Linked DNA regions of Homo sapiens: region 1 is reported to be linked to region 2. The links are microRNA targets in miRTarBase. Many come from high-throughput screens and were not tested one by one. Region 2 holds a microRNA gene; the other region holds the end of a gene's coding sequence.

What was found. Region 2 holds the annotated microRNA hsa-miR-6127 (UGAGGGAGUGGGUGGGAGG, at 3,365-3,383, opposite strand). A microRNA usually pairs through its seed, bases 2 to 8, with sites in the 3' UTR of a target mRNA and lowers its output. Matches are read on the target gene's strand: a 7mer-m8 pairs with bases 2 to 8, a 7mer-A1 pairs with bases 2 to 7 and ends in A, and an 8mer does both.
Region 1: the mRNA of HOXC6 is a reported target of hsa-miR-6127. Seed matches in the 3' UTR shown: 7mer-m8 at 4,625-4,631 and 8mer at 4,493-4,500.

The regions. Positions count from the first base shown.
Region 1 is chr12:54,029,564-54,034,626 of GRCh38, reverse strand. HOXC6 (homeobox C6) reads right to left here. Exons shown (of 2, transcript NM_004503.4): 2 at 3,804-4,972. The coding sequence ends at 4,665. HOXC5 (homeobox C5) reads right to left here and starts at 1,577. Exons shown (of 2, transcript NM_018953.4): 1 at 1,051-1,577; 2 at 1-349. The coding sequence starts at 1,504. The coding sequence ends at 135. MIR615 (microRNA 615) reads right to left here and starts at 677; the gene lies at 582-677. It also overlaps a transcript of HOXC4 not described here. RefSeq lists a silencer at 479-538 and enhancers at 622-1,773, 1,768-2,062.
Region 2 is chr1:22,629,964-22,635,034 of GRCh38, forward strand. It overlaps MIR6127 (microRNA 6127), which reads right to left and starts at 3,403; the gene lies at 3,295-3,403.

The DNA of each region.
Region 1 (5,063 bases), not on the chromosome of region 2:
TTGTCTGTGGGGCCCGGGAGCCCAGTGCTCCAGCACCTGCCCCCGACCCGAAATATAGAGAGGAAAGGCGAAAAGGAAAGGCGCAGGGACAGGAACCGGCTAGGGGCGCGCTCTGCGGGCCTCCCCCGCTGCCTCTAAAGAGCCTCTTTGCTTTTCATTTTGGAATCTTTCTTCCACTTCATCCTGCGGTTCTGGAACCAGATCTTGATCTGTCTCTCATTGAGACACAAGTTGTTGGCGATCTCTATGCGCCTGCGGCGAGTGAGGTAGCGGTTAAAGTGGAATTCTTTCTCGAGTTCCAGAGTCTGGTAGCGCGTGTAACTGGTTCGGGACCGCTTGCCGTCCGTCTCTGGAACATAAACCCCACCCCAAGCCAGGAAGGGGTGAATAGCTTGCAGCGTTCCCCCGTCCCCACCCCAGCCCAGGCCCCCACCCGCGGCCGGAGGGAGAGGAGGCGAGAGCCGCAAGACAGGCCACGCGGGCCGCAGGCGGGCCAGCCCAGCCCAGCCCCGGGAGAGGCGCCTCCGCCCAGGCAGGAAACTTTCCACCGCAGCCTTCACTCTGCAGCCGGAGGGGCTGAGGGGGGGTTGGGGGGAAGAGGGAGACCCAGGCTCGGACCGAACAATAAGCACCCTCGAGATCCGAGCACCGGGGACCCCCCTCCCGCCCCTCCCGAGTCGCTGGAATCCTCCGGAGCCGCAAGCGCCGGCGGAGCCGGCTCCGCAGGGGAGGGAGGGAGGGAGCCGCGGGGGGATCCCCGCTCTGGAGCCCCGCGCTCCTCACCCTTCAGATCCCTCTATTTTTTTAACTCCCTCCCTCTCCCCCAAAAATTGAATATTGCCTTTTATACACGTTTTGTTCCTATGATCCAATTATGTCGTCGTAAATTTGGGCGCACACAGCCTCTAAGCCTTTTAGTGGACAGTTTTACGAGCCATTGATGCCTGGATCGTAAAATTTATGGCCGCAGGTTTTTTTTCTTTATTTGCCCCGCATGGCCTATAAAACCCAGGCGGACCCGAGAGCGCAAAATGAAGTCCTAAAGTTTACCGTGGCTCATGTGCAGTTTGGTCATCCACGGGTAAATCTGTGGCGGGGCCGGTGGCTGGCTCAGTCCGGCGGGCTGCCCTGTCTGCGCCTGCTCCTCTTTGATCTCCCCACTGCTCTTAGCTCGCTCCTCCAGCGCCGGGCGAGCCGCCTTCTGACTGTACATCCCGGGGTTCAGAGGAGCCGCTTCGTCTCTGCCCGGAGCGTGTCCCGGAGCGGCCGCGGCGCTGCAGGCGGGGCGGTCGGGGTGAGCCCGGGGGTTGGCAGCCATGTCTACCCCGTGGAGAGAGTTGGAAGGCGCAGGCGGTGGGAAAGTGATGCTTAAGTCCAATCCGCCGTAGCAGTACCTGGATGCCTGCACCTCTGAGGCCGATCCATAGTTCCCACAAGTTTGCATGTTATAGGCAGGGATATTGGGGCTCTGCTTATAGAATGAATTGGCTACGTAGGAGCTCATGGCGGGGAGGGCCCAAAAAAATTTCTGCACCCTTTTTGATTAAGGGTGATTTGTGACTCTTTGAAGTTGAGGGGTTTTTTGTTCTCCAAAGTGGACAATTTATAGGTGGAGATATCTCTTTCTTTATCCTATGCGCTCTTCCCAAATAAGGGAGCCTTAAATAGAGTCACGTGACTCGAGCGGCCACTCATAAATTTGGCTTGATGACCTCCGGGAGGTTAGTGATGGAAGCCGGCGAAAAGCATCTCGATATGTTGGCAAAGCCCAACCAAGGGGGAGAGGGAGTGAGAGAGAGAAAGAGGGAAGGGGGAGGGAAAAAAAAAAAAAGGTTCTTGGAATTGGGGGTAGCCGGGACAACAAGCCCACAGCGACACCTGGTGCCTATGTGGGGGAATTGCATCCTGGAGCGCCAGCTTGCTTTCCGGTGGCTGGATTTCCTACACTGTGAAGGAGAAGCTGGTTGTTGGGGCAACCCCTGAGCTAGCCTTTTAAATTCTATTTAAAATTGGGAAAAGACGAGGCCCCACTTATAACGCACAGAGTGCTTTTTGTAATGAAAGTCCCGTTCTCCCAACCTCCAGGGTCTTCCAATCTTCAAAAATGGCTGAGGAAAGGGGATTAAGTTAGGTAAGGTGGCCTATGCCCAGGCTGGAGAACCAATGGGGTTTAACTTAGGTTCCCTAAACCAAAGGTAGAAGTCCCTTGCCTCTCAGGCCCTAAGGCTCCACTACTGCTGAAGAGGTGCCTATCAGCAAGAGAAAGTAGAATTAGCTTCTGAAGAGGTAGACAGGACGCCCAGGAGGAGGGATCCTGAGTGGTCAGAACAAGATAGGGGGGTCATGAAGCTGAGGGTGTTGCAGGCTGTTTGGGATGGATCTGGAGGTGAGGAGCCAGGTGGAGTTGGCTAGACCTCACCATGCTAGGGTCCCCAGAGTGGCAACAAGGCAATTTTCAAGTGTGTGTGTGGACACGGACAGAGCCAGACAATGGTCTAGAGGACTGCTCTGTTTCCCTGTGTGCGATCCTTATGTGGTACCTATGCCAGAGGTTTTAGACAGAAAATAGATGTTAATTGAGGACATGGAGAAGCAAGATTGAAGCCTCCACAAATATTACGTGAGCATGGCAGAGGAAAAGGCCCGTTATGTGCCCTTTGGGGAAAAGGTCTCTGGGCTAGGCTTTCCAGGGACCTGAATCCATAAGGTTCACAAGAGAGCAATTTCTGAGCTACCAAGAGGAATGGGGCGGACCTGGGGGGTGGGCAGGGCAGGCGCCTGGGTAGCCTTCGCAGGGTATCTGCAGCCATTCGGCCCCATCCTCTTCCCCCGTAGCCCCAAGTCTCATACTTCCCTGCCTGCTTCTTCCCAGGAAATCTCCGCCCCGCCAGGAGAAGGCCCCCTCCTCACTGGTGGAGGCACTGGAGGCGAGGGTGGGGGCGCTGGAGGGAATCTGAAGGGCCCGGAAAACTCTGGCGGATTTTTTCCCTCCGGAGACCCTCCTCAACACCTCTCCCTGTAGGCCCACTCAGGTTTCTCTGGCCAGGCTTGGAGAGAGAAGGCCAGGGTTGATAAATGGTTAGGGTCCGGCTGCGCTCCTCACCCGCCTCTTCACCCGTTTGAGGAGAGAAAAGTAAGGAACCAGCCCGGCTGGAGCTGTAATGAAGAAGGAATTTTGTCCCGGCCACGTCAGGAGTACCAGAGCAGGCGAGAGCTCAGTTTCCAGGCTTTCTCTCTCGAGATGTCCTTGAATCGCTCAATCCCTGCCGACAGGGCTCCAGTCCCGCGGTCTTCTCTTTCCCTCCGCTCTCCGCCTCCGCTACGTTTCGCAACAGCCAGCTTGGCGCGGGCCTGGGGCTTGCTCTCACGGCGCCCCCCGCCTCCAACTCCCGGGAGTGGGTGGAGGAGACCCTGGTGCCTGGATAGTGCTTCTTTACTGGTCTTTCGGGGCGCCTCAGGGTTCGGACGCCGAGGACACCGGCTGCCACAGGCAGGAAGAAAGGCCTGCGTGGGGTTGGTGCCCAAACCGACTGATCCCAGCTCCCCCCGCAACAAAATCCTACGCGGCTTTTTCCCGCAGGGTGTGTGTGTTGCTCCGCGCAGGGAGCCCAGAGAGGCCTCCCAGCCCCTCAGTGCGATCGCGAGAACGAACAGAAGGCCGGGGCCGGGCGCCTGGGCTCCGGGGAAGGCGAGTGCAGAGGGCTGGGGGCTTGCAGGGGGCCGGCAGGCGCGGGAGCGCTTGGAGCCTGCTCCAGCTCTCACCCTGAGGCCGGCGGGCGAGCGAATTAACAGAATTCCCGGTATAAAGTTTTAAAAATAATATCAGTTTTATTAAATATTCGAGAACGGACCCAGAGGTTGGATTTATACAGGAGGGTAACACGAAGGGATTTATTTATTTATTTATTTTCTCCTACTGGCTAAACAAACGTCATTCACTTTTTTTCTCTCTTTTTGTAATTTTCCCTCTTTTTTTTCCTTTTTTGAAATTGGATAGGAACACTGACGGTGCTAAACATAAATATAAATACAGAGACCACAAATACAGCTAAAAATCTTCACACAGAAACGGTCACAGTTTGTAAAATGCCATAATGACCCCCAGGATTCTTTAAATACAATTTGCCTGGGCTGGGCATTTGCTGGGGCAGAGGGGCTAGGCAGGGACTGCGGGGAGGCCCTGGGGGTTGGTGTGGGGCCAAGGCGCGCCCTCCTTGGGCCTCCGGCCCTCCCCGGCTGCCAGGCCGGGCCCTGAGGCCCTGGAGCAGAGGCCCCAGCAGGCCCAGGAGCCGGCTCTCTGCACGGGGGGCGGGGGTGGGGGCGTCGAAGGAGTGGGGGAGCCAAGTCCTCACTTGGAGGGCAATCTGTAGAGTCTGAGTTCAGGGTCCGAGCCCCCAAGGCCTGGACGGGGAAAAGGGCCTGTAGACAAGCCGAGAACGAGCTAGCAAGGGAGCGAGGAGGAGGAGGCGCGTGGTGAAAGAGAGTTGTGCGGTGAGGGAGGGGGTCCAGAGCTGACTTTCAGGTCCACGTTTGACTCCCTAATTTTGTTTTAGGGAATCAAAACACATCAATTGTGCCAGTGATAAATACAGAGTGTGTGATTAGGGGAGAGTTGGTGGGGAGCGAGGGAGAAAGGGAGAGAGGGGTGGCAGGGACAGTCCTGGTCACTCTTTCTGCTTCTCCTCTTCTGTCTCTTCCCGCTTTTCCTCTTTTCCGCCCAGGCTGTCGGCGGTGGCCCCTCCGCCGCCCCCCGAGAGAGTGGATGTGAGATTAGATTCTTTTTTCCACTTCATCCGGCGGTTCTGGAACCAGATTTTGATCTGTCGCTCGGTCAGGCAAAGCGCGTTGGCGATCTCGATGCGCCGGCGCCGCGTTAGGTAGCGATTGAAGTGAAATTCCTTCTCCAGTTCCAGGGTCTGGTACCGCGAGTAGATCTGGCGGCCGCGCCTCCGGTCCGCTCCGTAGCCGACCCCTAAAGATCCGGGCACAAAACACACTAAAAGCAATCAGCAAAGCGTCCTCTGCAGACTGTTTCGCCTAGCAAAGTCCTGACCCTCCCAACC
Region 2 (5,071 bases):
CAAAACCCTGATCTTATTGGGTGGTGGGGACAAAGAATGGAAGGATAGACCCCAAAAGGCCCAGAAGGAGGGTTTTGCAAGAAAGGCGAGACTAAGACAATCTCCATAATAAAGAACAGAGAGCAGGAGAGTCAGGGAGAAGGAGGAACAGTGGCTCTGGGCAGAGGGGCCGGGAGATTTTTTTTTTTGCTGGAGACAGGAAGTTGAAGACAGAGGTCTGGAGGAGTGGATGGAAAAGAGCAAAGAGCACTGGTGTCAACTCTATGCCTCCTTCCTGGTGTTCAAATGTACAGCAGAGAATTGAGTGTATCTGTTCACAGGGCTGGGTGGGGCAGAGGACTTGCACCAGAATGTTCTTAGCAGCTTTATTCATCATAGCCCAAACTCTGTACCAACAGAAGGGACAAACAAAGTGTGATACTGCATATGCATACGATGGAATAGCACTCAGCAATACCACGCAAACTGACACACGTAACACAGATGCATCTCACCGGCATGCTCTTCAAAAGAAGCCAGACACAAAAGAGCACAGGCCGCATGATTCCATTGACATGAAGTTCAAGAACAGGCAGAAGGCACCAATGGTGAGGGAGAGCAGAACACCGGTTACTTTGCGGGTGGAGGGGAGCACTGTTGACTTGGAGGGTCACGGCCGCCTCGCTGGGGAGATGGATACTCTGCACTCTGATCTGAGTGGTGGTAGAGGGCCTGTGCGTGCAGGTGTAAGCTACTGAGCAGTGTGCTTGAGATGTGCACATTTTACTCTGTGCAAATTATGCCTCATTTTTTTTAAAAGAAATATACAAGCACCTTAGAGTCGCATTATATACACACTTGCCTATCTCCACTTCGCCTAATAGGACTCAGAGAGAGAATCACAATTTAAGTAAGGCAGGGGATATTGGTTTTTTTTTTTTTTGAGACGGAGTTTCACTCTTGTCGCCCAAGCTGAAGTGCAATGGCCTGATCTTGGTTCACTGCAACCTCCACCTCCTGGGTTCAAGCAATTCTCCTGCCTCAGCCTCCCGAGTAGCAGGGATTACAGGCATGTGCCACTAGGCCAACTAATTTTATACTTTTAGTAGAGACAGAGTTTATCCATGTTTGTCAGGCTGGACTCAAACTCCCGGCCTCAGTTGATCCACCCTCCTCGACCTCCCAAAGTGCTGGGATTACAGGCGTGAGCCACTGCTCCCAGCCAGGGGATACTGTCTTCTAAGAGCCTATTTCTGGAGGGACCGTGGCTGGGAGAGTTCTGCTGTCCCCAAGTCTGCCTCCGCTCCTGTGAACCCCTCATGATCTAAACACCTCACCTCCAAGGGTGGCTCCAGTCTCCAAAGATTCAATTCCTTTGTGTGTGAGTGGTGGGGGAATTGGTTAACCTTAACCAACTGGTACTCAACTGAAGAAAAAGAAATCTGTTCTACTATTGGAGCCAAAACTGACAGCAAAAGACTATTGTGAAACGGTAATACAGTCTTTCACGTGGCGCTGTTTGAAGAATTTTTCCACCATTTACAATGGTGATACTCACCATTTACAATGTTTGCCTCGTATGCCGATTTTGCAACACAACCCTTGAATGGGATGTGACTGCCATAAAGAATTCAAGTCATTTAAAAATTATTTTTTGGTTATTTATTTGACCTTTGATCCCACTCTGAGACTGAACCTCATGGATCATAACTGTGCAAGCATGGCTAGGAATTTCCTCTCTTCCCCACATCTCCTGCCTCCCGTCTAGGAGTCTGGGCTCTGGAGAAATGGAAGAATATGCCCTTCCTCTCCGCCTGAAGGTGTCCCTGTTGTGACATGCACAGGGCCATTGCTGACCCTTTTATTTCTCACACTAATGATATGCGCATTAGTATCGATGTCTTTTATTTCTTGGGAAGTGTTTATACTCTTGCAACAGCCTGATAAGTAAAATCATCCAACACTTGGAAATAAGGCAAATAGATAACCGGTGTCCTTTCAAAGTCAAATGAGAGCTGTATCTAACAAACCCTGCTAAGGGTCATCTGACACTCTAGGGGAATGTCACTTGGCTTGACTTATTATTTACTATTGATTAGAGCCCAGATTCAGTAAAGATAGCTGTTAACTGGTAGAAAACTGTTAAGTTGCAAATTATTTTTGTCTAGTAGAGATGCAAATGATTTCTTTTCAATAGAGAAGATAGCCCCAACATGATGATTTTATTGCCCTATAGAACACTAACCAGTTTTGTATCTAATTTAGCAATTTTATGAATATTCCAGAATTCTTGTTGTTTTAACTGACTCTCTCTGTCTCCATATATAGGTATACATATATATTTTTTTCCATATCCATTGAACTAGCTTTGTCACCCAGCTGGTTCCTCCATTAACAACCTACAAGAGGACACTGACACATTCCCACACTGTATTTCTATAGGAACTGGGTATTCAATATTTTGAAAACTAGACTTTGAGAAGCTTTTCACAGTATCTGATTTTTCCTCTTGCCAACTCTTGCCCCTGTCTGTGTGACCCGGGCAAGTCTTTTTTTGTCTCTGGTCCTTTGTGTCTTCAGAGTAAAATAGGGCACGCAGGGCTGGCGTTTCTGCCTCGGGCATGTCATGTTTCTAACTCCTCTGGCAGGCAAGCAGGGCTGACGCAATGCAGTCAAAGAAGATGGATACTGGGCCGGGCGCGGTGGCTCACACCTGTAATCCTAGCACTTTGGGAGGCCGAGATGGGCAGATCACCTGAGGTCAGGGGTTTGAGACCAGCCTGGGCAACATGGCAAAACCCCGTCCCTACTAAAAATACAAAAATTAGCCGGGCGTGGTGGTGCACACACGCCTGTAATCCCAGCTACTTGGAAGGCTGAGGCAGGAGAATCTCTTGAACCCAGGAGGCAGAGGTTGCAGTGAGCTGAGATCGAGCCACTGCACTCCAGCCTGGGCAACAAAGTGAGACTGTCTCAAAAAAAAAAAAAAAAAAAGAAGAAGAAGAAGAAGAAGAAGATGGATACTGGGCTGGGCGCGGTGGCTCACGCCTGTAATCCCAGCACTTTGGGAGGCCGAGATGGACAGATCACCTGAGGTCAGGAGTTTGAGACCAGCCTGGGCAACATGGCAAAACCCCGTCTCTACTAAAAATACAAAAATTAGCTGGGCATGGTGGTGCATGCGTGCCTGTAATCCCAGCTACTTGGAAGGCTGAGGCAGGAGAATCTCTTGAACCCAGGAGGCAGAGGTTGCAGTGAGCTGAGATCCAGCCACTACACTCCCACCTGGGCAAAAAAATGAGACTCTGTCTCAAAAGAAGAAGAAGGAGGAGGAGGAGGAGGAGACTGGAAGGGATGTTAGAGGCCATTTGGGGCAGCCTTCCCACCTCCCACCCACTCCCTCATCTTGGTAGATGGAGAAAGTGGGGTTCAGAAAGATGAGATAACTTGCCCAGGGTCACACTGTGAGTTAGGTATGGGCTGAGCAGATGAGATTCCAGCTCCACGAACTTTCTGAATCCAGGGAGCATGGGAGGGGCTGTCAGGGGGAGCTCTGGGCCCCCACCCTTCAAGCCAGTATCCCCATTTTTATCTGTTTGACATACATCAGATGCCACACAAGATTGCAAATGAAAAAGAAGTCCCCAAAGCTCAAAAACCCTGGCTCTAGACCATCCTTCATCTGCCCACTTCAACAGCCTTCCCTTATCTCCTCCCTCCTCCTCCTCTTTTCCTCCTCCTGCCTCTGGCAAAATTTTCAGAAAACAAACAAACAAACAAAAACATGCTCATGAGAAGAAGCAGACAGATGTGGTCAGCCCAGGCCTGAACACATTGGTCTCCAGTCTGGGAGAGACAGAGCCTCTCTATCTAAAGAAAAGCATTCTCAGGGTCCAAGCTGACAATGATGCAGTGTGCCGTGCTGACAGGTAATGAGCATCCCATCAGTTAAGGTGAGTAAGGCTAGATGATCTGTTCAAACACTAGCAGCAATTGTCTCTAGATGGTAGAATTCACAGGCTTTTGTTGCTGGGTTTTGTTTTTTGTTTTTTTTTGAGATGGTGTTACAGGATCTTTGGGGTGTCATTTTCTGGCCGGAAACCTCTGTGGCTGGTGGCACCTTTGCCCAAGTTTTGCTCAGGCCCACTGGGCTTGTTTCACTCACTCCTCCTGGCAGGCAGCACTCAGCTCACATTACCAGCCTGGGTTCCACATCTGCCCAGGGCAAGTCAGGCATGGAACAGTGAAGGGTGTGTGAGTGAACATGGGGTCTGGCCACTGCACACAGTCAGACATGCCGGCTGCTGCAGCGGGGTGAGCAGCTCCAGGTGCCAGCATGGGCGCCAGCTCTCTGAGAGGTTGTGGCTAGACCAAGTACACCACAAGCAGCTTCCACAGCTGGCACCGGGGAACACGGTGGCACCCAGAAGCTTCGAGATGCCAGGAACCACAGGGCCCCGAAAAGGGAGTCACAGCTCCAGCTTGGGGAGCTCCCAGGTCTGGGTTCCCCAGAGGGCCGCAGCTCTTCTTTCCTTCCCTTCACCTGCATCATGGCAAGCAAGGGGCATGTTTCAGCCTTGTTTGTGTTACAGCTCTTTCAGCCCCACCATTTGATGGGTCCCAAGTTCTTATCCTGCAACCAGGAAGAATGAGGTATGCAGACAAGTGGGGAGTGAGCAAGACGAAGAGGAGCTTTACTGAGCGATAGAACAGCTCAGCCTCCTGCAGAGCCTCCCTCAGGGGGCAGCTCCTTTCCACAGCCAGGGTGTCCTGATGAGTGTTCAGCTGCTAGCAGAGAGGAGACCCTGGAATGGGAAGCTCCTCTCTGCAGGCAGGTCATCCTGTCGACTTTCCAGCTCTCAGAAGAGGGAAGACCCTGGAATGGGAAGCTCCTTTCTGCAGGCAAGTTGTTCTGCCATCTCTGCAGCTCTCAGCAGAGAGGAGGCCCTGGAGCGGGTAGCTCCTCTCGGCAGCTGGTCATCCAATGTCTGCCCAGCTCTGGCTGAGCCTGAAGCTTTCATGAGCCTCAGAGAGGAGGAAGTGCATACTGATTGGTCCATGGGTGGCTATAGGCAAGCCCAGAAAATACACC